Regions from separate parts of the Homo sapiens genome. Here all the other regions are linked to region 1. The links come from fine-mapping of genetic effects on gene expression. A gene starts in region 1. Each other region holds a variant in brackets. All regions are shown on one strand. Distances are from middle to middle. Region 1 holds the start of LRRN1 (leucine rich repeat neuronal 1). Region 2 has its middle 16 kb from the start of SETMAR. Region 3 has its middle 150 kb from the start of LRRN1. Region 4 overlaps LRRN1 (leucine rich repeat neuronal 1). Region 5 overlaps CNTN4 (contactin 4).

Region 1 (6,120 bases):
TTTAAGCAAGAAGCAAGTAAGAGATTTGGTTATGCTGGTTCATTGATTCCTCTTCGTCCAATGATGCAAAAATGCGTGTTTCCTCTTCATCCATCCCAATGACAAGGAGCTTTTAAGTGTCAGTTAACAAGACAGTCCCGAAACCCCTTTGCAGAGTTAAAAAAGGGTAATTTCTAAAATTTGGACCAATTACCAATTCAGGCAATTCAGCAAATTTCTAATAATTACACCACATTTCAGACTCTTTCATAATTGTCATGCTCATTTTTCCTCTTCTGTCCACAGCAAGCCCCATCCTCTCACCCAAATTCCTTCCCCCATCCCTGACACACATTTCTTCCTAATGATAATGCTCTTCTCTCTGTCTGGAACCAAATGCATGCAGTGGTCAAGTAGAAATGGGAAAAGCTGCCTTTCTCACTCTTGCCTTGGGGAAGAGGGAAATTAGTTTAAATAAATGATATGCTAATTTGAAAAGAAATGAATCGAACAGTGGAGAGACAGAGTCCATTTCCTCCACTGGAGCAGCTAGTGCCTTTGAGATATTCTGTCACATGCGGAATCATTATCCCACCTGTCTGAATTGATGTCTTGTTTTAGTCTTCAATACCTGCCTAATAATGCCTAGAGCTTACATCTGTCGTTGAATGCTTACTATATACTAAGCACTGTCCTAAGCATTTTACATGTTTACTCCCACTTAACCATCACAATCCTTTGGGATAAGTACTGATATTAACCCTACTTTAGAGCCAAGGAAATTAAGCCTTAAAGAGATAAAGTGACTTGCCATTAGGGACACAGCTCATAAATTGCAGGGCTGGGACCTAAGCAGTGTTGGCCTGGTTTCAAAATTCACACCTTGGTCCCTGACTCACACCATTCTCATGAAGTCTCTTCCAAAACCTGGAGGCTGTTCTAGATCTGGCCTCCCAAGAGCAACTCTCACCATCATTAATTGCTCCGACTGCTCCTCCAAGACCTACCTCTGTAAAGCTCCTCCTTGAAGGGCACAACCTCATCTCTCTTCCACTCCCAGGAAGGCAGGCTGGAAACCTAATAGAGACTCCCTAAGAAACCTGCATTCTATCTTTCCCTGACCATTCAATTTCCGTACTTCCACCAGAGCCCAACTTCTATCAGACAAACTCCATGCTATCTGCATGCTAACTCCATGGATAATCTGCATGAAAAGGGGGGAAAGAGACAAAATCATGTTACAAAACTTGGGCAAGGGTCTAGACTCAACTTGCTTTGAAAGATCTTAAATCTTCCCATTCATTTGTAGACAGCAGTGGGCCTTTTTCTTCCTCTGCTCTGCACGACCTTCTAGCCCAAGTGCTAGTATCACCTTTTCCTAAAGACTTTTAAGACAAACTGTGACCATTTATGTCTACATGACACAGTTTCAGGATAACAAAGTGTGAAGACACACAAAGACGTCAAACATTTATCAGAGACCTAAGCGAAACGCCAATAAATGTTACAGGGATCAAGAATATGGTTACTGACATTGAATGTATCCTGTGGCTTTGAAGAATCCAAAGGATGATTCTCGAATAATGTATCCTTCCAAATTCTCCAGAAGTTCTAAGTTTAGACATCATAATGAAATGTCACCACGTTCCTCTGCCAGAAGTTGTTCAGTACTGAGGGGCTAATGATGCTTTCGCTTAAAGCCGATTCCCCCAATAAAGGGTGCCAAGGCTTTTCTGAAGCCCTGCTTCCGGCTGGCGACTTTGAAGCTGAGACGCAGGTTCACGCGCAGTTTCCGAAGACCTATTCCGTCCCCACCCTCCTCCCCTTCCTCGGAGACACCTCCACTTAACACTGCCTTCTCAGTCCCTCGCCGCCTGTTTAAACACAACTTCCACCCCTCACAAATCAGAAAGCTGTAATTTCAAAGTTTCAGAAACGTTTTCGGAAAGCCTCCTCCAATGGGAAGCGACTTCGCCGCTGAGTTAAGCGTCCGAATCCTCCTTCCCGCGGCAGGGACACCGGCCCGGGCCAGGTCTGCGGAGGACGCCCCCGGGCGCGCACACACAGCCCGAGGACGCGCCCTGTATTTTAAGACGCAGGGTCGGATTTCACCCCGAAACTTGGCTCCCACAGCCCCAGGCCGAACTGTGTCTGGTTCTCAGCCCCCGAGCCCGAGTTCTACGCCGCAAAGAGATGGGGCCCCATTGTGCCTAGCTGGCCTCCTAGCACGGACGTGTATTTTCTTTTGGTCTGTCTTTTGCTAAAAACCGGCAGTGCGCTTCGCCTCCCTGCCCAGCCGCAGCCTGCCGTCCCCTAGACAAAAAGCGGCGACCGCGGCCCGGCCACCCGAGCCCCGCCGCGCTGCGCCTTTGTTGGGCGGTCCACAGATGGTGCCCAGCACGGGGCCGCGCCGAGGGCGGGGGCGGGAGGCCGCGAAGAGGGTCGGGCGGGAGGGGAGGAGACGGCGGAGCAGCCAATCCGCGCGCGGCCCATCAGCTGACCGCCTTTGCTTACACCAGGTGCACGCCGGCTGCGGGGAGCACAAAGCGGGGCGCACCGCGGGCGCCGGCAACGAGCCGGTGAACGAGGCGAGGCCCGTGCGCCCGCGGCTGCAAGCGCCCGCCTGGCGGGGAGAGGGGCCGACGGCGTCAGCCCGGGCGGCGGCATCCCTAGGCGCCTGGGGCGCCTTCCTCCGGACCTGGCCGCTCGCTGCCCCGCCCTCTGCACCCCACTTCTCCGACCCTCCTTCCCAGTCCTGCCTCCCCCTGCCCTGGCCTCTGAGAGCCGACTGAGCCCAGCCCCGTGCAGCAGCGGTTGCCTGTGTCGCCGCCTAGTCTCCGGTCTTGGTGCTCTCCCGGGGGTGCCCCAAGGAGCCAGTGCGCGCTGCGGGCTGGGAAGGAGGCGCCGCTCAGCTAGTCCTCCTCCTCCTCCTCGTCTTTCTCCTCCTCCTGCTGCTGCTGCCGCCGCCGCCGCCGTGGGTGCCGGGTCCGCGCGCACCCCAACACCCCCACCAGCTGGGCCTCGGGGTAAGTCCCTGGCCGGCCGCGCCGCGGCAGGAGGTGTGGGAGGCAGCGAGGGGAAGTCGAGGCAAACTTGGTGGCGTGGGAGACCCTACGGGGTCTGGGGAACCTCAGGGTAAGATCGCGGGCCTGAGGGGGACGAGGGGGCGCGGCTCACGGAGCTGGGGAAAATGACGAAGTCGGGAAACGAGAATATAGTGCCCCGTTTCCCCCCGTCCCCCTTGCCAAAAAAAAAAAAAAAAAGGTGTGGGAGAGCGATAGTTGGGAAGGCAGGCCAGATAGAAACAGGCAAAAAAAGGCAGTGACCGGAGCCGAGCCTGCTGGATTTCAGGGGCCGACCAGGGGAGGGAGGTGCCCGGGGACGGGGAGGGAGGAGGGCTGCCGGGATGTGAACCGGGGAAGGCAGCTGGGGCTGGAGAGCAGCGCGGAAAGGGGGCCCAGGGAGCTGGAAAGAGGGCCAAGAGGAGGGCAAGGAAGGTGGCGGGCGACGGGGAGAGGAAAGAAAAAGGGTGTCTTGGCGGTGGCCTTGGTAAGAGAAAGGGGCAAGGGGTATAATTGACAAGGCACTGAAAGTATTGAAGTCAGAGCCTTGGGAAGGATCTACCGAACTCTCGGCGGTCCACGCGGGGACAGACCTCAGCCCGTGAGCCTTGAGCTCCACGCGGGGACAGACCTCAGCCCGTGAGCCTTGAGCTCCACGCGGGGACAGACCTCAGCCCGTGAGCCTTGAGCTCCACGCGGGGACAGACCTCAGCCCGTGAGCCTTGAGCTCCACGCGGGGACAGACCTCAGCCCGTGAGCCTTGAGCTCCACGCGGGGACAGACCTCAGCCCGTGAGCCTTGAGCCCAGAAGGAGTGGCAGCCTCAGGACGTTTGCCAGGTGGCCTGGAATGTGAGGGAAGCCTCAGCCCCGCCAGGAACAGAGCTGGCGCTGAGTTCCCGGCTCGGCCCGGGTCAGAAGCGAGGAAAGTTTGCCGGCGAGTGTCCTTTGTGCTGCGTGGAGAGGGGTGTGGGCGGCCGCCGACTCGGCGCTTCCCCGCCGCCCGCCCAGGGAGTCCCTGCCTGGCAAGCTGGGGCTCGGGGAAAAGTCCAGCAGCGAGAGGGCCGCGTGTCCCGGGACGGTTCCAGGGGAGCCCGCGCGGAAACGCGGACCAGGCGCTTCGGCCCGGATGCCGGATCCAGGAGAAGGGGACCTCGCTTGCCGTGTCCACCGCCGCGGCCCCAGCGCCAAGAACAGAGCCTGGCCGTGAGTGAACGACTGGCCGGGGTACAAATGGTTCTGAAGCACTTGAAGCTCACAGGCAAAGGCTAAGAGTCTAAATCCCATCCCGCCGTAAGTATTTTCATTCCCAAACCTAAATCGTAAAGGAAAAGTGGAATTCTAATTGGGTGAGGGAACAGGTGCTGCCGACTCTGGCTTTTGCGTGGAGGATTTTCTAAAAGACAACATGTTTTGTTTTGTCTTGCCATGACAATCTAAATCATGTTAGTGGAATAGGCTCATTATTTCATTTTTAAAAGCTAGGGCTGGAGGAGTGGAAAGTTCAGGAAGGCACTTTGATCAGTATAAATCTAGAGTAAAAGTGTTATTGGCTCCAGGGCCATATGTGTCCCGAAGTCTCTGATTTGCATGCAAATGTGAGCGGATCCTGGCAGATGTCTGGCCTCATCCATTCACATGAAGGAATTTGAAAAGACAAGGAGTCTTCAGTTAACAATAGACCTTAAGAAAAGAGAATAAAGACGCAGTGTGAGTTTTTCTGTTTGGGAATTCCATGGTTTGCTGACACCTTTATTCAGGAGCCAAATTCTTTAAGTGCTATTGTATTGAAAGCTCAAAGTGCTGCTTGCTCTTTACCTGGCTGTATATATTCGTGCAATATTCAAGCTGGATATTCTAAGCTAGTTAGGAAAAGGTTTGTGTGAAGCAGACAGTAACTTTAACCCACTTCTGGCGGCTTGAAGTGATTTCTGAATTGACCCCTCAACTTTTCGAGTTTTCTTTTAATAATTTGACTCTTGCTCAAATTTGGTCCTCATCTTCAGAGCTATTCATTATAGTAGAAGATCGTTGTCGTTGACCGACATGAAGATTTCCTGAGAATGTCCACTGTCTAGCTGAGAATGTCCACTGTCTAGCCAAAGTCATTTCGGTTCTTAAGGCACCAAACTGTAGAACTGCAGGTGATGCAACTGTCCCAACCCTAGTTACCCGAGTGGTTTTCAGGTCACATAACAGTGAACGGGGAGGTAGTCGTGCAGTAGACTCTGGAGCAAGGGCCTTTCTGCCGTGTCTAACATTAGCTGCGTGACCACACTGCACTGTTCACCTCTTGGCGTTGTGCGACAGCTGAACAAAAGGCAGGCAGTGTGGGCCGCACGTGAGGCAGGCGATTATATTAATACCTACGACTAACCAGCCCCAGTGGCCTCTTCTTTTGTCAACCTCAAACACTGTTGAAGGGAAAAAGAACCTATTCACGGAACAGCATTTGCCCCAGTATTCTATATATTCACTGAAAGGGACATTAAAATACAACACCCCCCCAACCCCCGCCAGAAAAAAAAGACAACATTGTTTTGGAGGGCTCAGTGTTTCGGGGGAGGGGTGGACAACAGATGTTAGTCTGCTATTTTACATGTTCCTTTAAGTTATTTTTGCAGGTTCAGTGCCTTTTATACATAAGGCAATATTTTCACAGGATGGGGAAAAATGAATTGAATCAAATTTAAGTAAGAAAATGTTATAGCCAAGTTTGCATTTTGTGTCTTAGAGCTATATAGAAGTCAGAAAGTAACAAATCATTCTAATAAACTCTTAATTTGACTCTACACGCCTGATGTCTTCCTGATAGAGTTGAAGGGTAACTTAAAATAAACTTGACATTTCTAGACTATAAACCATTTTGTTGTAAAGTTATCTAGATATTTTTGAAACCTGGTAAGTTAAAAATGACCCTCACATTTGTGAAACCTTATCTTTGGCAATTAACCTGCCTGTGTAATCGTTATTCTGCAAGTCTAATGAAAGGACAGATTAGAACTCATTCCTTGGTAAATAAAACTGATAAAGTGTTTAATTATTAGAAAAGGATCATTCTGCTAAATAAAAGATCTCAAG
Region 2 (6,120 bases), 490 kb after region 1:
AAAAAAAAAATTAGTCATGCATGGTGGCACGTGCCAGTAGTGCCAGCTACCCGGGGGGCTGAGGTGGGAGGATTTCCTGAGCCCTGGGAGGTTGAGGCTGCAGTGAGCTGTGATCAAGCAACTGCACTCCAGCCTGGATGACAAAATGAGACTCTGTCCCAAAAAAAAAATAAGTAAATAAAAAATGAAAGGAGGAGGAGGAGGAGGAGGAGGAGGAGGAGAAGGAGGAGGAGGAGGAGAGAAAGTACAAAAGAAGGGGCTTGCCTTGCTTTTCCATTCTGCTACAGGTGACCCTGGCATCAAGTCTGCATTTCCCACATGTGATTGATCCACTTTAAAAACTATCTTTGATATATATTTTACTCCAGTGTGATATTTTCTTGCCACCAAAAATGTCTTTAAGCTGGCTCTTCCTAGGCAGTCACACTAGCGTCAACAATTACTTCAAATCAGGAAAGGCAAAAAAACTCCTGAAAAAAAAAATAGTACCATAGATTCCAACCCAAAATATAAAGAAGCATGGGGGGTAATTTGTTATTTGGGATTATCTGTGGTGCTTGTAAATGAGAAAAGCTAAGATAAAGGGATTATTTAATACATTATTTTTCCTGTAAACTGAATATCTTAGTAATCAAATGTTACTTCCAATACAAAGATTTAGCTGTTAACTTTGATATGAACTTACTTTATGGAAGATTTGCTAAGCTTTCACCCCCATTTATAATAAAGTCTCTAATAACCGCTGATCATCTTCGTCTCACAAGTAAGATGAGGCTTTCTTCTGTTTCTCAGTAGAAACTATCACATTCCTAGAATTCCATGAGTGCTGTTCTCCTGTCTCTAAGCCACCGAATAAGGCAGCTGCATTATCTCTTTCATAATTCTTGGGTACAATTATAATTATAATAGGCATAACTATAGCCAAATCACTATTCTCCATAAAATAACTTATGCTTAAAGTAGTTTGACTTAATAGTATCTCCTCTTTCGAAATTACTAATAGCAAGGGCTGTATATAATACTTGCATTACTCCTAGGACTATGCTTAGAATGAGTATCTTTACAAAGCACTTTTCTGAAGAGTCTACTCAAAATAATAAAGTGGCTAAAGCTAAATACCAAAATATTAATGATGGTAATGGTCATAAAAAGCTACAGGTGATTTTTCTTTTTTTGTGACTCTCTAGAGTTTATGAATTTTCACAATGAGAATGTATGATTCTTATAAGGAAAAAATGTATATGGTTATTCCTAAACTTTGACAATGAAATTTCCCAAACAAGATTAATCTCTCTACATGAATACAACTTGTATGTAATATTAACAATTCTTCTCTAGTACTTAGTACTTTCTTCCATATATTCTATTTCCTTGTATAGGTATGTAATAGATTACAAGCTCTCTGAGGATGCATTTTGGGCCTTACACATATTTGTCACCTCATACAGTACCTCATAATGCCTCATATTTGCTAAGTGATCAGTACTGTATGAGGGATGAATGATACTTTCAATAACAAAGGTTAAAGTTGATATATTCATCCAAATGCACACAACTGCCAAAATGTTGAAATACTTCCATACTAATGGATAAACACTATAATAGCAATGCAATAAGCAAAAAAAGTTAACTAAAAGTATAAATTATAATTTAAATTCATTAATTCAAGCTAATAGTCGGAGCATGTTGTCAAATAAATCCTAACTAGGTCCCCCACCAAGCAAGAAATTAGAAATACTTGCAGAAATATCCACCTGTTTGGCCCAGAGCAAAGTATGCAGTAAGAATGTATTGCACATTCTTTACAAGACTCCTTAAGAGTATCACTCATTTGTTATATGCTTAAATTATATAGTTACCTCTATTTTCAAATTGTTTAGTTTTTTCTCTGGTTTTTATTGTCAGTGCACTACAATTCTTGTGTAAGTAATAAGTATGTAGCTTTTTAACATTTATAAATGGAAAAATTTATAATAAAATATTAAAAACAAATTATCAGAATAAAAATACTATAAAGTTAGGGCAAGTTTCTTATTGTTCCTTTTGCATGTTATAAACATGAGTTTTCTGCATCTATAGGAAAACAAAGCAAAAACCGTATTAACAAAGAAGCAAGGCTGGGAACATCTTCTAATACAGCACAAAAGCAGTAAAAGTCTAGAAAGTCTTTTTATGCTGTGCAACAATCAGCGCACAGTAAAACTAATTTTAGCTCTGGAATGAAAAACAACTTATTTGAAGAAAGAATATGATTGGTTTATTTTCTGAACAAAATGATGAGTAAAATGGTGCTGAAGGTTTTATTGTTTAAATTTCATTTTCATCACACCAGCAGTCATGTTCTGTTAAAGCCCATGATTCCAAGAGAAAATGCAATCATTAATGAGGAAAATATAAAAGAATATTACAAATAAGTTTCGCAAGTTAAAGCTTATAAAATAATAAGTTCAAAGATGTTTTATCAGTGTCAATAAGGCAAATGTAAAACATTAAGATCCATCATAACACCATCGTAGCACAGAACACCTAACGTACACTTGTAAAACTATGTACTATAGATAAAAATTATGAAGCATTTTAGACATGAAATATTTACACAGAACTTGCAGAACAATGCAATGGGTGTATCACTGCAGCCTGGATTTATGTTTTAGGTTATTGTAAAACCATCTATTGCAATGTTCTCAAAGTGTGGTCCAGGGATGCCTGGGATACCCGAGATCATTACAGGTGGTCTGCAATGTCAAAATTATTTTCATAATAATACTTAAGTGTCATTTGCCTTGTAACTGTCATTCTCTCACAAGTGTATGTGTTTTCCAGAGGCTACATGACATCATGTTTCTCACAGCTAATGGAATGTGTGCTATATGTTCCTGAGTTCTT[G/A]TATGTTTTCAGTTTTAATTCCTAATATGTTAAATACTGGTAGACAGAACAACACAATGCAAAGCTTTCAGGGGGTCCTCAACTATTGTTAAGAATATAAAGGGAACCTGAGACCAAAAAGTTCAGAACCAGCAACTTAACAAAATAAGAAAATAACCTTTCAGAAATTGAGGCAGTAAAACATCAGTTGTTCACAGTAAAGATTCAAAAAACTTAATAAACATTTATTTTCCAAATAGCCATTTAGAAGAATAATGAACATAAATTGTAAAAAAAAAAAATCTTTCACACATTTCCTTACTAATGGGATGTGTGTGCTTGTTGGTCACCGCACAACCTTCTAACTTTGGAATCAGATTGGATGCTGTCACTCTCATTTCTCATTCCACATTGATTTTCACTGGTATTTGCTTAGTATTACAGCAATTACCAAAAACACAGCTTCACAAAGATAGGACCTCACCAAAAGGAACGTGGCACAATCTAATGTTGAAACCATGACCTACCTAGAGCTAGTAATTTGCACAGACATTGAATATCACTGTTTCCCTTGAATATTTAAAATATACTACAGTATTCCCTTTGGAGTCCCAAGGTGCCTCAGTGCAGTTTAGGAACAACAGATTCAAAGAATATAGTGCTTTTCCTTGTCATCTTGTTAGTTCTGCATTAGCTAGTTGTTTGTGCTTAGAAAATTCTATTATTATCAACCAAGCAAAGCTTAAAGTAAATTAGTAAATCTTCCAATATAGGGAAATAGAATATTTTGTAAGCTTTCTGATAATTCACAGATTTGGATAATTAATGCTACTGCTCTGACATCCATACTTCTCTTCTGCTCATCTTTTTAGCTCCCTTTCCTAACTCTACAGTGGTATGAAAAATTTAAAGATGATCCCATGCAAAGGCAAAATAATGACCCCAGAGAGTTCAGGCACCTGCTATCTGCAATCTAGGTCTATGACCATTTAGAACTACCTCACCAGACAACACCTAGGGAAGGTGAGGAATATACAATAATACAAATGAAGTTCTTAATTGCTTCATCACTGGTACATAGATACCAGTTTCCTAATTTCTGTTAATACATCTGAGCAGTAAGCAAACGTACTGACAAGGGAAAAAACTATGCATGGACAGAATCTCCCTGTTGGCACAGCACAAAAATGTCATCAGCTTTAGGCAAAGATTAAGAACCAGAAATTATTATTTTCTGTGTCTTTCTACTTTAAAAAAATTAATATTCCAAAGCTTTTGGATAGATGTAAAAGCATTCTGAAAGAATTACTATCATGGGTCTCTGTCCCTGAAACAGCTCTTCCCGTTGAGCTCCCTTTCCTAACTCTACAGTGGTATGAAAAATTGAATACCCGCTAACCTAGCTTAGTATTGCCATACAATCACCCCACTCAAAAATTAGAAGCTACAAGGCTGGCAGATCACAAAGTCAGGAGTTTGAGACCAGCCTGACCAACATGGTGAAACCCCATCTCTACCAAAAATACAAAAATTAGCTGGGCATGGTGGCATGCACCTGTAATCCCAGCTACTCAGAGTGGAGGCTGAGGCAGGAGAATTGCTTGAAACCTGGGAGGTGGAGGTTGCAGTGAGCCAAGATCGTGTCATTTGCACTCCAGCCTGAACAACAGAGCGAGACTCTGTCTAGAAAAAAAAAAAAATTGAACCTACAAAGCCCTCCATTGTTTCTAAATACAATTTAATTTCTGCCCCCAAAGGAAGATGGTTTCGGAACTTCACAACGTTCTCTTAAACTTCCTTATTATTTACTGTTTTATCCATGAAAATCAAGAAGGACCTCAAGCCCACAGTGGTGTTGTTCTTTCTACCAACTCCATCTCTTTATTCATTATCACACAACCTTTTCTGCTACAGTACATAGCATAATTTGCTCCTGGTGGGCAGTAATGCCATCACATTCAGAGTGAGGGCTATTTTAAACCCTATCCCAGCCAAACCAGAACTGAACAACACTGAAAGCAACTACGAGGTTTCGGGAAAATGGGGAAGATAGTGACAGAAAGGAAGCCTGAGAAACTCAGACTGGAGGTGAAAGAGCAGCTGGAGGCCAAGATAGTCCCACTTGGGGAGGAGCAAGAATCCAAGGATCTCCTCCTTCTCTTAGCACTTACAAAGCTGACTCCAAAATAAATCCTGTATTTCCTGCTCAGTTAAATCTCCAGGACAATCCTATGAGACTGGCATTATCAACCTCATTTTATGGGTGAGGAAAGAGGCTCCAAAGAGCAAGGAACCGCACTGGGCCAGTGTGGTGTAAATCGGTCACACATAGACTGTCTGTTGAAGGGTGTTCTTACATTACTACACTAGCAATTAGAGACCTAAAATAAGATAGGAAGCTCTATGAGTCAGAGCTTAAGCCCTTGCCTTCAAGCAAGTATATATCTTAATTATATCAATTCTGTTCTTATAGATTTCCTACAAGGAACCCCCTCCATACTCACCCTCCATCACCCATTACAGTACTCTTTTCCTTTTGTCAACTGGATCTACCTTCTCTTAATTTAAACCCATTTTCTTTGTTGCTATCATCCAGAAGGGGTAAAGCATCTGGTTGTAGGGTTTCTAGCTAGAGCACTCTGTAAACTAAACGACCATTTAAAATAGCACCTAGCACAATGGCCAACACACAGTTGGTACTTAATAAACACGCTGAATAACTACATGAACAAATGCTAAAAATAAACCTTTCTTTATTATGAATGACTCTAGCATCAAATAAATTGTGTTATCAACAAAAACAACAAAACATTTCAAAACGTCTTCCATAATTGATTAAGTTGCATTTTTGCAACTATTGGCAGATCTAGATATGAGATCCAGGTATAAGGCATAATAGGCAAATCACACATGGCATAATGAGTGGCACACTGTAGCCATTCAATCTGGTGAATGAATTTAAATTATGCTGGGTTGGTTTTTTAATCACAATGAAACTTAAAAGACATACCCAATTTTTAACTCTCAGACAAATAAAACACATTCCCAAGTTTAGCATCTTTAGACAGTATTTTCCATCTTTTGTCAAACATATTCACTCAGTCATTTTACAACTGCCTATGTACTCGTTATAACTTGAACATAAATTTCTCTTAGATTGTGTAAATGTGAGTCTAAACAAATCACAGCAAAGGAAAACGTTTATCTGAATTTTCTCATCACAATTTGCTACAAACATTTTTTAACTCTTTCCTC
Region 3 (6,120 bases), 150 kb before region 1:
CTGAAACACAGCGCAATTCTGAAAAGCTTTGTCTTCTCGCTTATTGCTCTTAAAACTTTCCTTTGCCGAGTCAGGAAGATGCTCCTATATCTCCACCTGTTTGTGCTTTGGGGCATGAAGCCTAGCTCCTGTAACTTGTTTCACAACCCAATGCTGAAATTGCTGTTGCTGCCATTGTATTGTAACAGAAGGGAAAAGAGAGAGTGGGTTAGGATTTTATATCTTCTATGTGGGAAAGCCATCATGTTCCTTTGGGTTTTTAAAAGCCCTTGCATTTGTACAGTGCTTTATGGTTCATGAGGTGTTTTTGTATTTATTATTTTCATTGATGCTGACAACACTAAATGCTTGCCCCATACTTATTTTCTATTTACCAATAAAATGGTGAAGATCAGACATTCAGCAGGCATTATTTGAACACTTACTGTGTGCTGGGCACTAAGAATTTGAGGATGAGCATATTGTTATTATTTATTTATCTTTGTGTATTTATTATTTAGTTATATTTTATAGATGAGGAAATAGACTGAGAGAAATTAATTATCTTCAGTCATCCAGATAGTAAATAGTGGAGTAAAATCCTCAAACTTAGTTTTTTTTCATTTCAGCTTTAGTATAGTTCTTTTATAAACCATTCTAACTTGTCCCTCAGTTAGCTTCCTTTAACTTACCACTTCTCACTTGAAACATCTTTTTTTTTCTAATTTAGCTCAAAGGCTGATAGAATAAGCAATTATGTAGAGTATCTGATAGGCCCCATGTATTAATTATTAATGCTAGCTAATATCAGAAATGAGAATGAATGTCTTTAAAAAATTATAGATTTAATGAATTCAGACTAAAGCATTATGAAGAACAGAAAGGTAGCCCTGAAGGAGAATAGAAGGGTATTAGAATTGTCTTCTGTGCATTTTCCACACTGATGGGTGGATAGCTCTTGGCGCCTTTGTCGTGAAATCTTTGCCCATGCCTATGTCCTGAATGGTATTGCCTAGGTTGTCTTCCAGAGATTTTATAGTTTTAGGTTTTACATTTAAGTTTTTAATCCATCTTGAGTTAATTTTTGTATATGGTATAAGTAAGGGGTCCAGTTTCAATTCTCTGCATATGGCTAGCCAGTTATCCCAGCACCATTTATTGAATAGGGAATCCTTTTATAGGAAAGCTGAATATTATAAATACTTTTAAGAATAGGAAGAATAGAAAGAGAAGGGACAGAAGTTCCCTACCAGATGAGTAGATGAATTAGGAGATAAGAAACATTACTCTTTTCTCCAAATAGTATGATTGGTGTCATTAGCTGTCTTATGTCTAATTAACATATGTACCAAAGGAACTCCATGTAGATAATATGTGAAATCCAGAAGACTGTAGCAGTGACTTCCATAGATATTCTATGTTTGGGATGATAATACGAGCAGTTGACCTAGGCTTGTATATCGATACAACCATAAATAACCAGGTTCACAATGTAAGACATATAGTCATTTGCCAAGGAATAAATTATCAATATGACATGAGAAATACCTGATTAGAGAAAAGTCATATTAATATAATGACCGAAGCCTTCTTGTATGATCAACTATCATAAGACCTTTCTAATTTAGATGTCATTGATTTGCATTTATCATAATTTAAATTGGACCAAGATAGGGTTTTCCAAGCCGAAAGGTAATGCTTGGAGAAGATACTTCCCCATCTTAAAGAGGTTCAAATCATAAAAAGCCCACTTTGAAGAAGTTTTAGGCACTTGAGAAGCACTGATTTCTATAAGGCAGGACATAGAGCTTAAGAGGAATTTATGATTTTTAGTGAAATTTCCTCATTTTATAGATGAAAACACAGGCCCTGGGAGACAAAGAGACCCCAAAGCCACACAGCAGCGAAACCCACACCAGATGATCCCATCACAAATGACCACTTTTTCTACTCAATGCTACCCCTCTTCTCTTGCTTTGGTAATGACAAATTGCTCTTGCCTAGTAAAGAAATCTTAGGCTTGCATTTGGCTACACTCGACTGCCCCATATTTAGCTGGAGACTTTTGCTATAAAGCTATATTTCTTGTTAAATACTCCACAACTCAGAATTTCTGTAAAGCAGGATGGTCTTGCTCTAAGTATATCTGCATTAAGTTAGTTGTTATTGTTTTGTCTTGCCATGTTATATTGTATTCTGGGGTTTCTTTTGTTCGTTTCATTTTGTTTTGTTTTGCTACAGCACAGTGCTTAATGAATGGAGATTTTAAAGATGATGGATGTTACTGCTACTTGTTTATAAAATACTGAATAGTTCTGGAGAAAACTCCCTATTTGCTTAGGTGTTGCTATGTAAATCTCAGAAGGGACACATGGATTTTCCATGTGATTGATATGGTCAATGTTCTCCATTATCCCCCATGCCACAGAGAAACTTGAGAGATAAGGA[G/A]TATAGAGAGGAGGCAAGAAGATGACACAGAATTTCATGCTGGTGTAGCCACTGGGTGGGTTCCTCTTGTCCACCTCCCAAATTGAGCTGATTTATCAAGACAGAGGAACTGCAGTGGAGAAAGAGTTTAATACCCACAGAGCCGGCTAAAGGGGAGACTAGAGTTTTATTATTACTCAGCTCAGCCTTCCTGAAAATGTGGAGGCTAGGAGTTTTCAGAGAGTTTGGCAGGTGGGGAGCTAGGAAATGGGAAACGCCAATTAATTAGGTCAGGGATGAAATCATAGGGGGTTGGAGCAGGTTCTTCTTGCTCTCTTCTGTTCCTGGGTGGGATTGCAGAACTAGTTGAGCCAGATTGCCAGTCTGGGTGGCAGCGGCTGGTCTGTCATAATGCAAGGTCTGAAAACTGTCTTGGACACTGATCTTAGGTTTTACAACAGCAATGTTATCTGCAGGAGCAATTGGTGAGGTTAGGAATCTTATGGTCTCTGGCTGCATGATTCCTGACCACACTTTCTAATTCTGTGGCTAATTTGTCAGTTTTACAAAGGTGGTCTGCTCCCCAAGTAAGGAGGTAGTTTGTTTTGGGGAGGGGCTGTTATACTCTTTGTTTCAAAGTTAAACTACAAACTAAATTCCTTCCAAAGTTACTTTGGCTAACACACAGGAATGAACAAGGGTAGTTTAAAGGTTAAAAGAAAGATGGAGTCAGTTAGGTCAGATTTCTTTCACTGTCATAATTTTTGGAAAGGCAGTTTCAGTGGGAAACGCATGTGAAATGGATTTGGGTCAAGTTCTATTGTCTGCTTATCACTAATCAATTCTTGGAAGCAGGAATTCCTAAGGATGGGGAAACGTTGACCTTCCATGAAACTAACGGGCCACCTTGAAGTCTTATCCATGCCAGTCCTGTTATGTTGGGCTCCTCGTTCTCCAAGCACACTTTTGACTCTCTCTTTTAGCTATGCCTGGAAATATCTCTAGTGGAAATAATTCTGTTTAGTCTCACAGCTCAGAAGTACTTCCTACACTATTTATCCAAATCCTACCTTTCACTACCTAGCTAGAGGAAACCTGAGTTTGAATGCCAGCTGCAGGATTTACTGGGTGTGAGACCAAGGGTAAGTCAGGCAAATCATTGAATTTCTCTGACTCTCATTTCCTGAGCTATAAAATAAGATAATAATAGTAGCTACTTTATAGGTAGTCACTATACAACTTGTGTGTGCATCACAAAAATACAGCATTAGTTCGTCAATGACAAGTGATGTTTTATATTATTCATATTATTTTCTTTCCATTAGAGACACTTCAGTACTTCAGTGAGGACAGCTCACCCCATGTGAGGAAACCTGAGTGAACTGGCACTATAATTTCTAAATCATTCCAGTGATAGCTTAAAATCTGTGGTGAATTAGTGACTAAGGAAGCTGCCCTGTCCAGCTCTGAGAACAAGGCTGTATTCATTTCCCTGCACTGCTGAAACAAAGCACCAAAAACTAGGTGGCTGAAACTACAGAAATGTGTTATCTCGCAGTTCTGGAGGGTGGAAATCTGAAATCACATGTCAGGGGGGCCGAGCTCTTTCTCTCTGTCTCTCTCTCTCTCTGAAGACTCTAGGAAAGAATCCTTCCTTGTAGCTGCTATTAGGTTGGTGCAAAAGTAATTGTGGTTTTTGCCATTGAAAGTAATGGCAAAAATTGCGATTACACTAAGGGAGGAGACCACCCCTCGTATTGTCTTATGCCCAATTTCTGCCTCCAAAGAAAGAAGAAGTAAAAACTAAAAGGCAGAAGTGAAATCCACAGGCAGACAGCCCAGCGCCGCGCCCTGGGCCTGGTTAAACATTGACCCCTGACCTAACCGGTTATGTTACCTATAGATTCCAGACATTATATGGAAAAGCATTGTGAAAATCCCTGTCCTGTTCTGTTCCATTCTGATTACTGGTGCATGCAGCCCCCAGTCACGTACCCACTGTTTGCTCAATCGATCACGACCCTCTCACGCGGACTCCCTTAGAGTTCTAAGCCCTTAAAAGGGACAGGAATTGCTCACTCGGGAGCTCGGTTGTTGGAGACGTGAGTCTTGCCAAAGCTCCCGGCCGAATAAAGCCCTTCCTTCTTTAACTCGGTGTCTGAGGGGTTTTGTCTGCAGCTTGCCTGCTACAACACTAACCAAACATCTTCTGGTGTTTGCTGGCAGTCCTTGGCACTCCTTGGTTTGTAGATGCCTCTTCCAGTCACATGGTATCTTCTCCCTGTGTGTCCTCATGACATCATGACATCTTTTCTCTGCACATGTCTGTTTCTGTGTCCAAATTTCCCCCTTGTACGACATCAGTCATACAAGATTGGAGTCCATTCTGATGATCTCATTTTAATGTGATTATTTCTATATGACTGTATCTCCAAATAAAGTCACATACAAAGTTACTAGGGGTTAGGATTTCCACATATCTTTTTGGGGACACACAATTCAACCCTTCACATGAAACTAACACATGGTAAGTTAATCATTAAAATAAGCTCTTGTTATTATATTACTGTCTGTATTATATTATATTTATTATATTACTGTCAGCTTTGCTCAACATAACAGTATATTCTCTCCATTTTATCCACATTTGTTTTTTCTCCTCAACTGACTGCAGTAAATCCGCTAACCACAGAAGCCATGTGTTATTTATTTACTTTTAGTGTATTAATCCACTGAGGCTACCATAGCAGAATACTACAGACGAGGCGGGTTAAATAACAGAAACGTATTTTCTCCAGGTTTGAACACTGGAAATCGAAGCTCAAGGCACTGGCAGCGTTGGCTTCTGGTGAGGCTTCTCATCCTGGCTTGCAGATGTTCTCCTTTCTGCTGGGTCCCCACCCAGCCTTCCCCCTGTGCACAGGCATCCTGGCATCTTCCTCTTCTTCTAAGGACACTAGTTTTATTAGATTAGTAACCCACTCTTATAATATCCTTTAACCCTAATTACCTCCTTCAAGGCCCTATCTCCAAATACAGTCACATTGAGTTCTGCCTATGAATTTTAGGGGGACACAATTCAGTTCATAACAATGATATTCTTCCCTAAGAAGAGGTCTGGCCATGTGGTGGCAATTAACAAGTTCTACTTAGCAAAACGTTCACATATTCACTGGAAGAAGAAAAAAACGTTCCTGAATATCTGTGTGTGGGGAAGAGAAGGACGGAAGGGTGTTCCTCATAAATTCTCTAGCTGAATTATTTTTTTTCATATATACCACTAGTCTGAAGCACAAATATGTGGATTTCTAGATAAAGCAACCCCACAGATAATCCAAATATTTGTTTCAAGTCAGGTATTCTGCTGAATTCAGAGGAGCATCCCCAAACAAAAATTATGTTTTCAGCTCCTCCCAAAGTCTTCACTTTGCTGATAGCAAGCAATCTGTGAGCTAAAGGCAAACCATAGTATCTTCTCTTAATTTTCCAGGATAATGCAGATAAAGCTGCCACAGATCTCTCTCTCAAATCGTGAGTAGAAGGCTCAGAAATCCCTTTTTCCAGGACTCTGTAATGACTGACCTCTGGGACACTGTGTCTCCTTATGTTTCAAAAGGTTCAGGATTGGCCACAGCACAGTCAAAAAACAGATATCATAAAATCCACCTGTACTCTGCATCCAGCTCACCTGGGACCCTTGTAAGGCTGCACGAT
Region 4 (6,120 bases), 37 kb after region 1:
TCTGTTTTTCCACAGTTTCAGCTCTTTCTGTACAGAAGACAAGACTCTCACTCAGGGTAATCTTAGCAGATTTGAGGCTCGGTATCTGCTTCTGAAGCCAGGAGACAGAATCCCTGAGTCCATCATTTTCCATCATTTTCTTTCATCACTTTGTCCACTGAACTTAGGAGCAACCAACCAGCTTCATTGTGTTCCTCGGTTCTCCACATATGGTCAAAGGCATTATGTATAGAGTCACTGAACTCCTTGCCTCTTACAAGCAGTGAATCAGGAGTGTCAAATGCATTTATTTTGCATAAGTCTCTAAATAGTTTACAACAACGACTATCAGTGTTCTCCATACTATTAGAAGTACAGTCCTTAGCATTTTTGGGTCTAATCATATTAAGCAGCCAACTCCAGAAACCCCAAAACCAATGAAAGAACTCCATCCTTTAATATTCTGTTCCTTTAGAACCACTCCTGGTACCAAAATCTGTATTAGCGTTCTCTTAGAGGGACAGAACAGGATATATATATATATATATATATATATATGATATATATATTATTATACATATTATATATCATATTTTATATACATTATATATATAATATATGTAAAGGAGAGTTTATTAAGTATTAACATGCATGATCACAAGGTCCCACAATAGGCTATCTGCCAGCTGAGGAGCAAGGAGAACCAGTCTGAGTCCTAAAACTGAAGAACTTGGAGTCTGATGTTCGAGGGCAGGAAGCATCCAGCACAGGAGAAAGATGTAGGCTGGGAGGCTAGGCCCATCTCTTCTTTTCATGTTTTTCTGCCTGCTTTATATTCACTAGAAGCTGATTAGATTGTCCCCACCAGATTAAGGGTGGATCTGCCTTCCCCAGCCCACTGACTCAAATGTTAATTTCTTTTGGCAACACCCTCACAGACACAACCGGGGTTAATGCTTTGTATCCCTCAATCCAGTCAAGTTGACACTGGGTATTAACCATCATACCCAGGCCCTAGGCTGAATATTTTTACATAAGTACTTTTTTGTTATCATAATTTACATGTATGAACCATATATACTTAGCCTTAAGTTTAGCTATGGAAACTGAGGCACAGAGAATTTAAGTACAGATGCTTCTCAGCTTATGATAGGGTTACGTCCTGATACACCCATCTTAAGTTGAAAATATCATTATGTTTAAAATGCATTTAATACACCTAACCTACCAAACATCATAGCCTACCTTGAATATTGTCAGAACATTTACATTAGTTTTATTGGGCAAAATCATCTACCATAAAGTCTGTTTGCTAATAAAGTGTTGAATTTCTCATGTAATTGAACACTGCAGTGACAGTGAAAAATAGGATGCTATCATATAGGTACTCACAGTATGGTTTCTACTAAGTGTGTACTGCTTTCACACCTTTGTAAAGTCAAAAAATTGTAAGTTGAACTATCGTCAGTTGGGGAAGGTCTACAGCTTGCACAAAGTGACACATCTAGTAAGTGGAGAAGCATAATTCGAATACAGAACACTTGATTCCTCCAGGGTAGAATTCTTTCTCCAACCCCAGAGCTGCCTGATTTTTTTTTTTTTTTTTTTGCAGTAACAGAAATACAAATAACTAGCTTGTTACTGTGAGTATATATTTCTTTTTGCCCAACTTCATAAGAAGTTAATGCATATAAATCATAGAGCTAAGTCCCACCGAATAATGTCATTCTGTTAAACTAATATCCTATCTGACACAATGCTATGGGGAAAGTGAGAGTCTCCGCCAAGTGCAGTGATGGTGATGATCATGCAGTTCATTTCCTTCAGAATTTTATACTCAGAACAGAGTGTCCCAAACATATCGTGTTGGAAAAAAAAAAAGAAGCATCAAATGTAATGTATAATTGTTTGTGGGACTCTTGAAATGCATCCCGTGCCAATTCTGGGCCTTAAAGCCATGTTTTGTTAATTAAAGGATTGTTTCTTTAAACTGCCAGACTTCTTTGTGGAACATCACCCTGGTAATTAGCAGGACATTTTCTTCTTACATTTGATAGATCTAGTCAGTCAGCCCTAGAAGAAAGCAATTTCACTTAAAAAAAAAAATCTATTCCAGCCATTTCTTATTTGTTGCAGAATTTAAGATAATTAATTTGTATATGTTATAAAAGTTGGCCTGAATTATTATGGCTTCGCTTTTTTTGTGGTAAAAACACTTAACATTAAATTTACCATCTCTCAATTTTAAGTGTACAGTTCAGTTGTGTTAAGTATATTCACATTATTGTGTAACAGATCTCTAGAACTTTGTCATCTTGCAAAACTAAAACTTTATTCCTATTAAACACTAATTCCCTCTACCTCCAAGCCCTTGGCAACCACCTTTCTACTTTCTGTTTCTATGATTTTGGCTACTTTATATGAATGGAATCACGTACTATTCACGCTATTGTGAATGGCTTATTTCATAATGTCCTCAAGATTCATCCGTGTTGTAGCATATGACAGGACTTCCTTTTTAAAGCTGGATAGTATTCCATTGTATGTACACACCACATTTTCGTGTGTGTGTGTTTGTGTGTGTGTATGTAGTAGTGGTTTTTACTGATTGGCACAAGATCACGGCCTGTGCTTCCAATACCCTTCCCTCCTATGCAGCTCAAATGGAAGGAAACTGATTAACACATAGGAAGCAATAGCATGCTTACAGGTTTAAACTCCTTTCGTTTTTACAAAAAGGAGTGGGATATGGGGGGTGGTACAATTTTAGGGGTAGTAGCAAAACTCTCCCTAGACTACAGTGGGTGGGCCTGTCTGTCCCCTGTTGCTGGTACCACATAAGAAGGTTCATCAGTAAAGGAAAAAAGGGTTACATGTGGTTGGCCTGCTATTAAGAGGGGAAGATAGGATGGTATCTGCTGTGTACCTGTGTTGGGCCAAACCTGGGACTGGACCAGTGCCCCTTTTTTCTTGGCCCACCTACACAACCCAGCTGTACTGTCTCCTGCACCCATGGGAAGGAGGTGTGAAGGAAGCTGAGAACATCCGCCTTGAGAAGATGAAACAGGAAACCTCACTTT[C/G]CTTTCACTTTCTCTGGACTAAATTCCACTCCCCTCAGCTCTGGAAAGCACTGCAAAAGTCTTCCTTAGGAGTGCTGTGAAGACGCTGGGGAAGATGCCGGCCCAGGCAGGTGGCCCTGAGTGTGCAAAAAGAAAAACTTGACTTTCCATGCAGTATCAAGCAAGGTTACTTTGTAAACAAACAAAACTGGAAAATAAGACTACATACTAAGTCCTTGAGAGCATTTGGATTGGGGGCAAGGGCTTTATTACTCCTTCCCCCCCCCATTTTATAACCCCACACCAAGTGTCAAGAGCTTTAAGGACCACAACCAACCCCACCTTCCCTTCAAGCACCATTCCTTGGGTTCCTCAGTTTTGTTGAGCTCATTTGGGGTTATTCCTGCCACCCTCTTAAAAAATGACTCAGCCTGCTGGTTGGTCCATTTTCTACCCTTTCTACAATTATGAAACACACTCTCTAAATAGGAGATACATAAGCCCTCACTCTATAGTCCAAGGAACTAGGTGATATAATGCCAGGAAGGCTAAATTGTTTGCTTTCCTGGGTAATCCTGATGTGAATGGACAGCAGCAGGGTTCTGGTGGGATCAGAGCAGTCTAGTTTGAGCCACCGCACCACATTTTTTTTTCTTTTTTTTTAATTAATTTTAATTTTTTTTTTTAAAGCTCCAGGGTACCTGTGCAGGATGTGCAGGTTTGTTACATGGGTAAACGTGTGCCATGGTGGTTTGCTGCACCTATCAACCCATCACCTATGTATTAAGCCCAACATGCATTAGCTGTTTTTCCTAATGCTCTCCCTCCCCTCACCCCACCACCCAACAAGCCCTGTGTGTGTCGTTCCCCTCCCTGTGTGTCCATGTGTTCTCATTTTTCAGCTCCCACTTATAAGTGAGAACATGTGGTGTTTGGTTTTCTGTTCCTGCGTTAGTTTGCTGAGGATAATGGCTGCCAGCTTCATCCATGTCCTTGCAAAGGACATGATCTTGTTTCTTTTTATAACTCAGAAATAAGACCACCCATCTACAACCATCTGATCTTTGACAAACCTAACAAAAACAAGCAATGGGGAAAGGATTCCCTATTTAATAAATGGTCCTGGGAGAACTGACTACTCATATGCAGAAAATTGAAACTGGACCCCTTCCTTACACCTTATAAAAAAACTAACTCAAGATAGATTAAAGACTTAAATGTAAAACACAAAACTATAAAAACCCTAGAAGAAAATCAAGGCAATACCATTCAAAACATAAGCACAGGCAAAATCACCAAAAGCAATTGCAGCAAAAGCAAAAATTGACAAATGGGATCTAATTAAACCACATTTTCCTTATCCATTCATTTGTCAATGGACATTTGGGCTGCCTCTCCCTCTTGGCTATTGTGAATAATAATAGGTGCAATGAACGTGGGTGTACAAATATCTCTTTAAGATTCCGCTTTAATTCTTTTGGATATGTACCCTGAACTGGGACATAATCGTATGGTGATTATATTTTCAATTTTTTGAGAAATCACTATATTGTTTTCCATAATGGTTGCACCATTTTACATTCTCTACAACAGTGAACAAGGGTTACAATTTCTCTACATCCTTTCCAATGCCTGTTATTTTCTGTTGTGATAGTGTCCATCCTAATGAGTATGAGGTGATATTTCATTGTGCTTTTTATTTGCATTTCTCTTATGATTAGTGATATGGAGCATTTTTTCATATGCTTGTGGGTCATTTGTATGTCTTTGGAGAATTGTCTATTTAAGCCCTTCACCCATTTTTTAATAAGGTTATTTTGTTGTAGGAGTTTATAATATATTCTGGATATTAACCCTTTATCATATATATAATTTAAAAATATTGTCTCCCATTCTGTAGGTCATCTTTTTTTGCTGTTGATTATCTCCTTTGATGCACAGACCTTAAGTTTGAAATCATCTCATTTGTCTTCTGTTGTTGTTGTCGTTGCCTGTGTTTTTGGTGTCATATCTAAGAAACCATTGCCAAATACCCTGAAGCTTTTTCCTTATGTTTTCTTCTAGGAGTTTTATAGGTTTAGGTCTTATGGTTAGGTCTTTAATGCATTTTGAGTTAATTTTTGTATATGGCATAAGGTAAGAGTACAACCTCATTCTTTTCATGTAGATATCCAGTTTTCCTCACACAATTTGTTGAAGAAACTGTCCTTTATTGTATAGTCTTGGCACCCTTGTCAAAGATCATAAAGAGCATGTATAGAAGGCTTTATTTCTGGACTCTGTTCCATTGGTCTGTATGTCTGCCTTTATGTCAGTACCACACCATCTTGATTACTGTTGCCTTACAGTATGTATTGAAATCAAGAAGTGTGAAGTCTCCAACATTGTTCTTTTTCAGGATTACTTTGGCAATTTAAAATCTCTTGATCTTATATGAATTTTAGATTTTTTTCCTGTAGAAATTACCATTGAGATTTTGATAGAGATGGCATTGATTCTGTAGATTGTTTTGGGTGTTATAGACAGTATGACAATATTAAATTTTCCAGTCTATAAACATGGGATGTTTCATCATTGTGTTTATATCATCTTTGATTTATTTTGGTTATCTCTTAACAATTTTCATTGTACAAGTCTTTTGCCTCCTCAGTTCGATTCATTCCTAAGCATTGTATTCTTTCTGATACTTTTGTAAATGGGGTTGTTTCCTTAATTTCCTTTTCAGATTAGTCATTGTTAGTTTATGGAAATATAACTCATTTGTGTGTTGATTTTGTATCCTGCAAATTTGCTAACATCATTTATTAGTTTTAGTGGGTTTTTTGTGGGATCTTTAGGATTTTCTGTATATATGAGATTATGTAATCTGGGAACAGATAATTTTACTTCTTTTCCATTTGAATGCCTTTTATTTATTTTTCTTGTCTAATTGCTGTGACTAGAGTTTCTAGTACTGTGTTGAATAGAAATGGCAAGAATAGGCATCCTTTCCTTGTTCCCATTCTTAGAGGAGAAACTTTCAGTTTTTTGCTATTAAGAATCATTTTAACTGTGGACTTTTCATATGTGACTTTTATTATGT
Region 5 (6,120 bases), 890 kb before region 1:
GAACAGCCTGGCCACCATGGCAAAACCCCATCTCTACTAAAAATACAAAAATCAGCTGGACATGGTGGTGCATGCTTGTCGTCCCAGCTATCTGGGAGGCTGAGGCAGGAGAATCACTTGAACCCGGGAGGCAAAGGTTGCAGTCAGCTAAGATTGCACCACTGCACTCCAGCCTGGGTGACAGAGTGAGACTGTCTCAAAAAAAAAAAAAAATTATCTCTTGATAATCTGTATAAGAAAGAAAAAATATATATGTTGGTTCCACCTATTGATTAAATATCAGGAACCTCCAATGCTATAGAGGAGATTCCTTTTAATGTTGGGTGATAGCCCTACGGTCATGAATAAGAGATGGTTAGGAAGCATATATTTAATAGGTTTTTCCCTTGGTTTTATTTTATGTGTTCTGTCTTGGTATTTAATGTGTATGTAACATGTCTATTTAATGGATTTAAACTGCTAAATAATTAATCTGTGTGCTGGGTGATTTACTCACTGGATGGGCAAACGCCATAGAGAGACTTTTATCTTGAGGTCAGTATATTGGTAGGCCTGGTTATGAGTACATCAAATGGAAGTGTCCTTGTCTGTGACTGAACTATGACAATTGGCAGTTTATTTTTTTCCCAAGGCAACTCCTCCTAGATCTTTTCTGCTGTCTTAGCCTGAGTCATGGATGAGATTCACTTGTGGGATATATCCCTGTGGACATCCCTGAGGTGCTGTACAACTCCCTGGGTGATAACCATCATTCCACTCCTCTCCCCCACTCATGAAGGTGTATTACAATTAGAGTAAATAGAGTCTTGTAATCATGGGGAAACTGAATCTTCTATACGTAACTTAAAAAGTAAAGATAACTAAGTTAGGTATTTTGTTGGTGAAAAAATAACTTTTCTAAAGTAATAGTTCTACCCATGTTTAGTATTTGTGTCCACTCAGATGATCATATTGGCGATGGGGACTGCTGATTAAATTGCCAAACTTGAAATCATTGGGTAAATATAGAGGATAGCTAAGGTCTCCAAAGCAAGTCTGAGGCAAGTATTCAGGTATCTGCAATTCACTGAAAGAGTGTTCTCCAGGAAAAACCTGTAAGGAAAAGCAGAATAAGGAAGAAGGAGGAACCAAACAAGGATGGGGTCTTAGGTAAAGTCTAGCCTAAGTCTAATCCAGAAGGGAGATTTCTGGAACATAAACTGTACCTCAGACCCATTTCCACCTTGAGATAATGAGGCTAGCTTTTTAAAAAATCTCCATGTTAATCACTTCCTAAGCTACCTCTTAAGTGGGGTTCCAGAAGTGGTGGGGGTCAAAAATCTTTGATTTTGCTTATATATGTGAGAATATTGTGAAAAAAGTTTTTTGATTTTACAGTGGGAGGAGCCATCCCTAAGGGTGAGTGGGTATCTGCCCAGTGGTCTTTTGAATATGACTTGACTTTTCCAGGACTGTATAATGGAGGAGAAGTAGCTTCTATCCTGAGGAAATTATGTCTAATGGTTCAGTATCCCGGGGGTTCTCCTGGCCTGTGTGGTGGAACACATCTGACCCTGGCAGGACACTCAAATACCATCAAGTAACTGATGGCCCAATTAAAGTGAGGTGCAACCTTGAGCGATTATCTGGTTAATTTGGCATCTACCCAGGTGATTGGCTCCCAAATTAGAAAAACATTAAGGCTAAACTAAAAGTTATTTCATAGGGACTTTCACAAGTGCTCATCTGCATCTGATTTCTCAACTGCCTCGTTGAGCCAGGTTACAAAATAATCAGATGTGCTGAGTGTGATCAGCATCGAATGAGAGGACACATGCCTTTCTTACCCAACTGCAGTCATCCAGGCAAGAGCTTTACTTAAGTTGTCATGAAGAGGGGAGCTGTGCACTTGGCTCTCAAAAGCAAATTTGGTGTCTTTATCAAGTTATTGATCATATACGTACCAGTAGTAGGAGGATGTCATTACTCATCTTACTGTGAAAACTGACAGAATTACACGTGAAAGCCTTTGCAAACCTAAAGGTGTTTATAACAATATAAGAAGGTTTGGGCTTTTTTTTTTTTCTCTTAGTATCCATACCAAACACTTAGAGATAGCCATGAAATCACCAGTAAATCCCAGTTCTGTGCTTCTCAATTTTTGCTGCAGATTACAATCATCTGGGGAACTCTTTACTATCCTGATGGCATACCATACTCGTTATCAACTAATTCAGTCTCTGATCCTAGGACCCAGGCATTTTTCCTTAAAGCTCCCCAGGTGTGATTCCGAAGAACAACAGAATTTGAGAACTATTGCTTTAATTGATCAGGTTTAAAAAGCCATTGAATTTTCCTAAAATATTGATTATCAGGCTTTATCGTGCATCACAGTAATCTAGAGGACATGTTAATACACAGATTGCTGAACTCTACCCTGAGAATTTCTGATATAGTAGCTCTAGAGTGGGGCCTGGGAATTTATATTTCTAACAAGTGATGTTGATGCTGATGCTGCTTATCCAAGACCACCGTTTGAGAACCACTATCCTAAAATAGGAAATCTGTCCTACACAGAGGGCTTTTGTTGTTGTTTTTAAAAATTGAACATAGTCTCCCTACCAAAACATCTGATTTTGGATCAAAAAGCACTCTGAATCCGAAGTACCCCTGTATGAGAGAAAGAGCAGGCATCAGAGATTCCAACCATGGCTGAAGGCCCCATTTCAACAAGAGAGTGAATAGGAATAAAGCACACAGAATGTCTTGACAGACTACCATGTGAGGCTTGAGCTAAAGTGCTGCATGGCATGACTCTGGTAGTTAAAGCCAACTGAGGGGAGACATTGAAAGCTGATAAATATTATGATAAATATTATGATCATCCCTTACATCAATTCCCCCAAAGAAATGCAGTGAGTCAGAGTTTAAAATATTACTCTAGAATGCAGCCTAAGGCATCACTGAGCATTAATACTTTATATACAATCCTATAACCAAAATATCTGAATCTTCTGTAAAACTGCTGTGAAGAGATGATCCATCTTGAAGTCCTTAGTCCTTTTCATAAAAATATTTCCAATAAATTTCTCATAAAATGTAGAACTTCTCTCTTAAAAGAAGAAAAGTTTGCATCTTCTAGTAAAGAGGCAAAGTTTTTCATCAGTCAGTAAGAAAT[A/G]TGTTATTTTTCTCTTTGCCCAGTCTGGGATTAATTTAACTCTATTGTATTAATTCTAGTGAGATTGTTTTCTACCCTTCCCCTGTTTGAATTGAGTCATATTGTAAATGTATTTACTACTTTATGTCTTTTACCATTATCTACCCCAAGTTCTTTGAATTTGTGAATGAATAAATAAATGAAGTAACTATTTTTCCCCCTCCACCACCTTCTGGCAAAATTGATTGCATTTGGGGAGCCTAATCTAAGGAGTATTAATTAGACTGACATTCAAGATTTGGTAGTGGGGGGTGATTCATCAAGATAGTCAAAAGGGAAGCCCCAGACCCTTTTTCCCCAATGGACCAGTTGCCATTGAAAGAAATAAAACCAGTTAAGAGATTTCTGCACTCCAGTCAAGTGTAAAGCCAATAGCATTAAAGCACTGTAGAAAAATTTATGGCACTCGCTTGCTGGAGCACCTCCCACTCCCCACAGCGTAGCACAGAGCTATCAGTAGAAAACTTCCAATTCCTAATTTCTTGCTGGGGAGGGAAAGAAAAGAGTGGAAGGTATATCCAGTGTTTTTACTTTTGAGGGGGAAGTACTACCTAAGGGAGTGGTTTCCGTTTTGCCTGAATCTAAGTGATGACAGAAACTGGGCTATGTGGGAGGCCCCCTGAGAACAAAGTCTTATCAACATGGCTTGGTCTGGTATCAGGCTGTACCACAGACACTAGGGGAGGTCCAGTACCAACAGAGGGAAATTTAATGCTTCCTGCAGCACTAGAAAGTCCACAGTACCTGATAAAGACACCAAGGGAAGCTCCTGAGTAGAAACCAACAAATCTTCAATTAGGGGATTACATACAAAAGCCCAGAGAAGATGCATCATCAGAAAAGGCTTGAGAGATTTGCGGAATCTCTAGCTGGACTGATTGCTCTCAGACTGCAAAGACTAGGAGAAGTGTCTGATTTTTTAAATGCCAGAATTCCAGCAGAAGATAATAAAGCACACAAAGAAACCAGAAGACATGGCCCAACCAAAGGAACAAATTATATCTACAGAAATCAACCCTAAAGAAACAGAGGTATATCAATTACCAAAGAATTCTAATTATTCTCATAAAGACGCTCAAGGAATTAAGAGACAGTACAGATAGATAACTAAAGGAAATCAGGTAAATGATGCATGAACAAAATGAGAGTATCAACGAGATAAAAGATGAAAATGAGCCCAAAGAAATTCTGGAGGTGAAGAATATAGTAAGTGAATTCAGAATATAGTACTCAATTTACTAGAGAGATTCAACAACAGGCTTGACCAGACAGAAAAAAATAATCAGCAATTCAAAGACAGAACATTAGAAATTATTGAGGCAGAGGAGCAAAACGGAAAAAATAAGAAAAGTGAAGAAAGCTGAAGGGTCTATGGGACATCATCAAGTGCAACAATATAAGTGTTATGTAATTTGCAGACAATAAAGAGAGAAAATGGCAGAGAGCCTATCTGAAGAAAAAATGGCTGAAAACTTCCTGAGTCTGAGCAAGGAAATGGATTCACAAATTTTAGAAGCTCAAGAACTGCAGCTAGGATGAATCCAAAGAGATCTACACTGAGACACATTATAATCAAAGTGTCAAAAGTCAGAGACCAAAAGAAAATCCTGAAAGCAGCAAGAGAAAAGCAACCCATCACAAACAAGTGTGCATCTGTAAGATTATCAACAGATTTTTCAGCAGGAACTGCATGCTAGAAGGGAGAGAGATGATCTACTCAAAGTGCTGAAAGAAGGAGCTGCCAATCAAGAATACTATATCCGGTAAAACTGTCCTTCCAAAATGAGGGAGAAGTGGAGACTTTCCCAGATAAACAAAAGCTGAATGAGTTTATCACCACTAGGTTTACCCTGCAAGAAATGCTGAAGGGAGTCCTTCAAGTTGAAATGAAAGGATGATAAACAACACAAAACTATATGAAAATTTAAAACTCCTAGATAAAGGTAAACATACAGACAAATATAAAATCCTGTAATATTGTAGGTACAAAAATCACTTTTATAAAAATCTGGTATAGAATGTTTTAAAAAGTATAAAAGGTAACTATAAATCTATGTTAATAACTGTACAGTATAAAAGGAGGTAATTTGTGTCATCAGTAACAAAGTGGGGCAGCAGGATGTAAATAGTTTTTATACATGATTGAAGTTAAATTGTTGCCAGCTTGAATAGATTATTATAACTTTAAGATGTGCTATATAATTACAGTGGTAACCACAAAGATAATATCTATATAATATACAAGAAGAGAAATGAGCAGTGAATGAAAACATATCATTTTTAAAAATAAAGGAAACACAAGGCTGGGTGCAGTGGCTCACGCCCGTAATCCCAGCACTTTGGGAGGCTGAGACAGGCACATCACTTGAGGCCAGGAGTTTGAGACCAGCCTGGCCAACATGGTGAAACCCCATGTCTACTAAAAATACAAAGTTTAGCTGGATGTGGTGGCGCATGCCTGTAATCCCAGCTACTCAGCAGGCTGAGGCAGGAGACTCACTTAAACCCGAGAGGCGGAGGCTGCAGTGAGCCAAGATCACACCACTGCACTCCAGCCTGGATGACAGAGTGAGACTCTGTCTCAAAAATAAACAAATTAAATAAATAAAAATTAAAACAAATAAAAATCGAGGAATAAAAATCTCCTCTTTTGAAGACAGAAAGAGGAGAAAGGGTAAACACAAAAGCTACAAGATACATAAAACAAATGAACAAAATGGCAATTGTAAGCCCTTCCCTATCTCTAATTATTTTAAACATAAATTGATTAAATGCCCCAATTAAAAGATATAGCTTGACTGAATGGATTAAAAACAAACAGGATCTAACTATATGCTCTCTGTAAGAGACACACTTTAGATCTAGGGTTACACGCAAGCTGAAAATGAAAGAATAGAGGAAAATAATCCGTGCAAACCAGAACC

What was found. PIP is the estimated chance that this variant, and not a neighbour inherited with it, causes the effect. A credible set is the group of variants that fine-mapping cannot tell apart.
Region 2: its variant is the best candidate, but not a certain one, in a credible set for the expression of LRRN1 in testis (GTEx, PIP 0.61).
Region 3: its variant is the best candidate, but not a certain one, in a credible set for the expression of LRRN1 in transverse colon (GTEx, PIP 0.68).
Region 4: its variant is the best candidate, but not a certain one, in a credible set for the expression of LRRN1 in whole blood (TOPMed, PIP 0.75).
Region 5: its variant is the best candidate, but not a certain one, in a credible set for the expression of LRRN1 in whole blood (INTERVAL, PIP 0.70).

What each region holds. Positions count from the first base shown.
Region 1 is chr3:3,796,915-3,803,034 of GRCh38, forward strand. LRRN1 (leucine rich repeat neuronal 1) reads left to right here and starts at 2,517. Exons shown (of 2, transcript NM_020873.7): 1 at 2,517-3,005. It overlaps LOC100130207 (a long non-coding RNA gene), which reads right to left and starts at 3,961. Exons shown (of 6, transcript NR_149025.1): 1 at 3,787-3,961. RefSeq lists silencers at 2,418-2,487, 2,498-2,587, 2,728-2,837, 5,371-5,665.
Region 2 is chr3:4,284,253-4,290,372 of GRCh38, forward strand. It overlaps a transcript of SUMF1 not described here. Among named protein-coding and RNA genes, the nearest start is that of SETMAR, 16 kb to the right of the region's middle. The variant G/A (reference allele first, on the strand shown) is at 2,887.
Region 3 is chr3:3,642,392-3,648,511 of GRCh38, forward strand. No RefSeq gene overlaps it. Among named protein-coding and RNA genes, the nearest start is that of LRRN1, 150 kb to the right of the region's middle. The variant G/A (reference allele first, on the strand shown) is at 2,428.
Region 4 is chr3:3,834,017-3,840,136 of GRCh38, forward strand. The region is part of intron 1 of LRRN1 (leucine rich repeat neuronal 1); the gene reads left to right. Among named protein-coding and RNA genes, the nearest start is that of LRRN1, 38 kb to the left of the region's middle. The variant C/G (reference allele first, on the strand shown) is at 3,060.
Region 5 is chr3:2,907,373-2,913,492 of GRCh38, forward strand. The region is part of intron 12 of CNTN4 (contactin 4); the gene reads left to right. Among named protein-coding and RNA genes, the nearest start is that of CNTN4-AS1, 150 kb to the right of the region's middle. The variant A/G (reference allele first, on the strand shown) is at 3,158.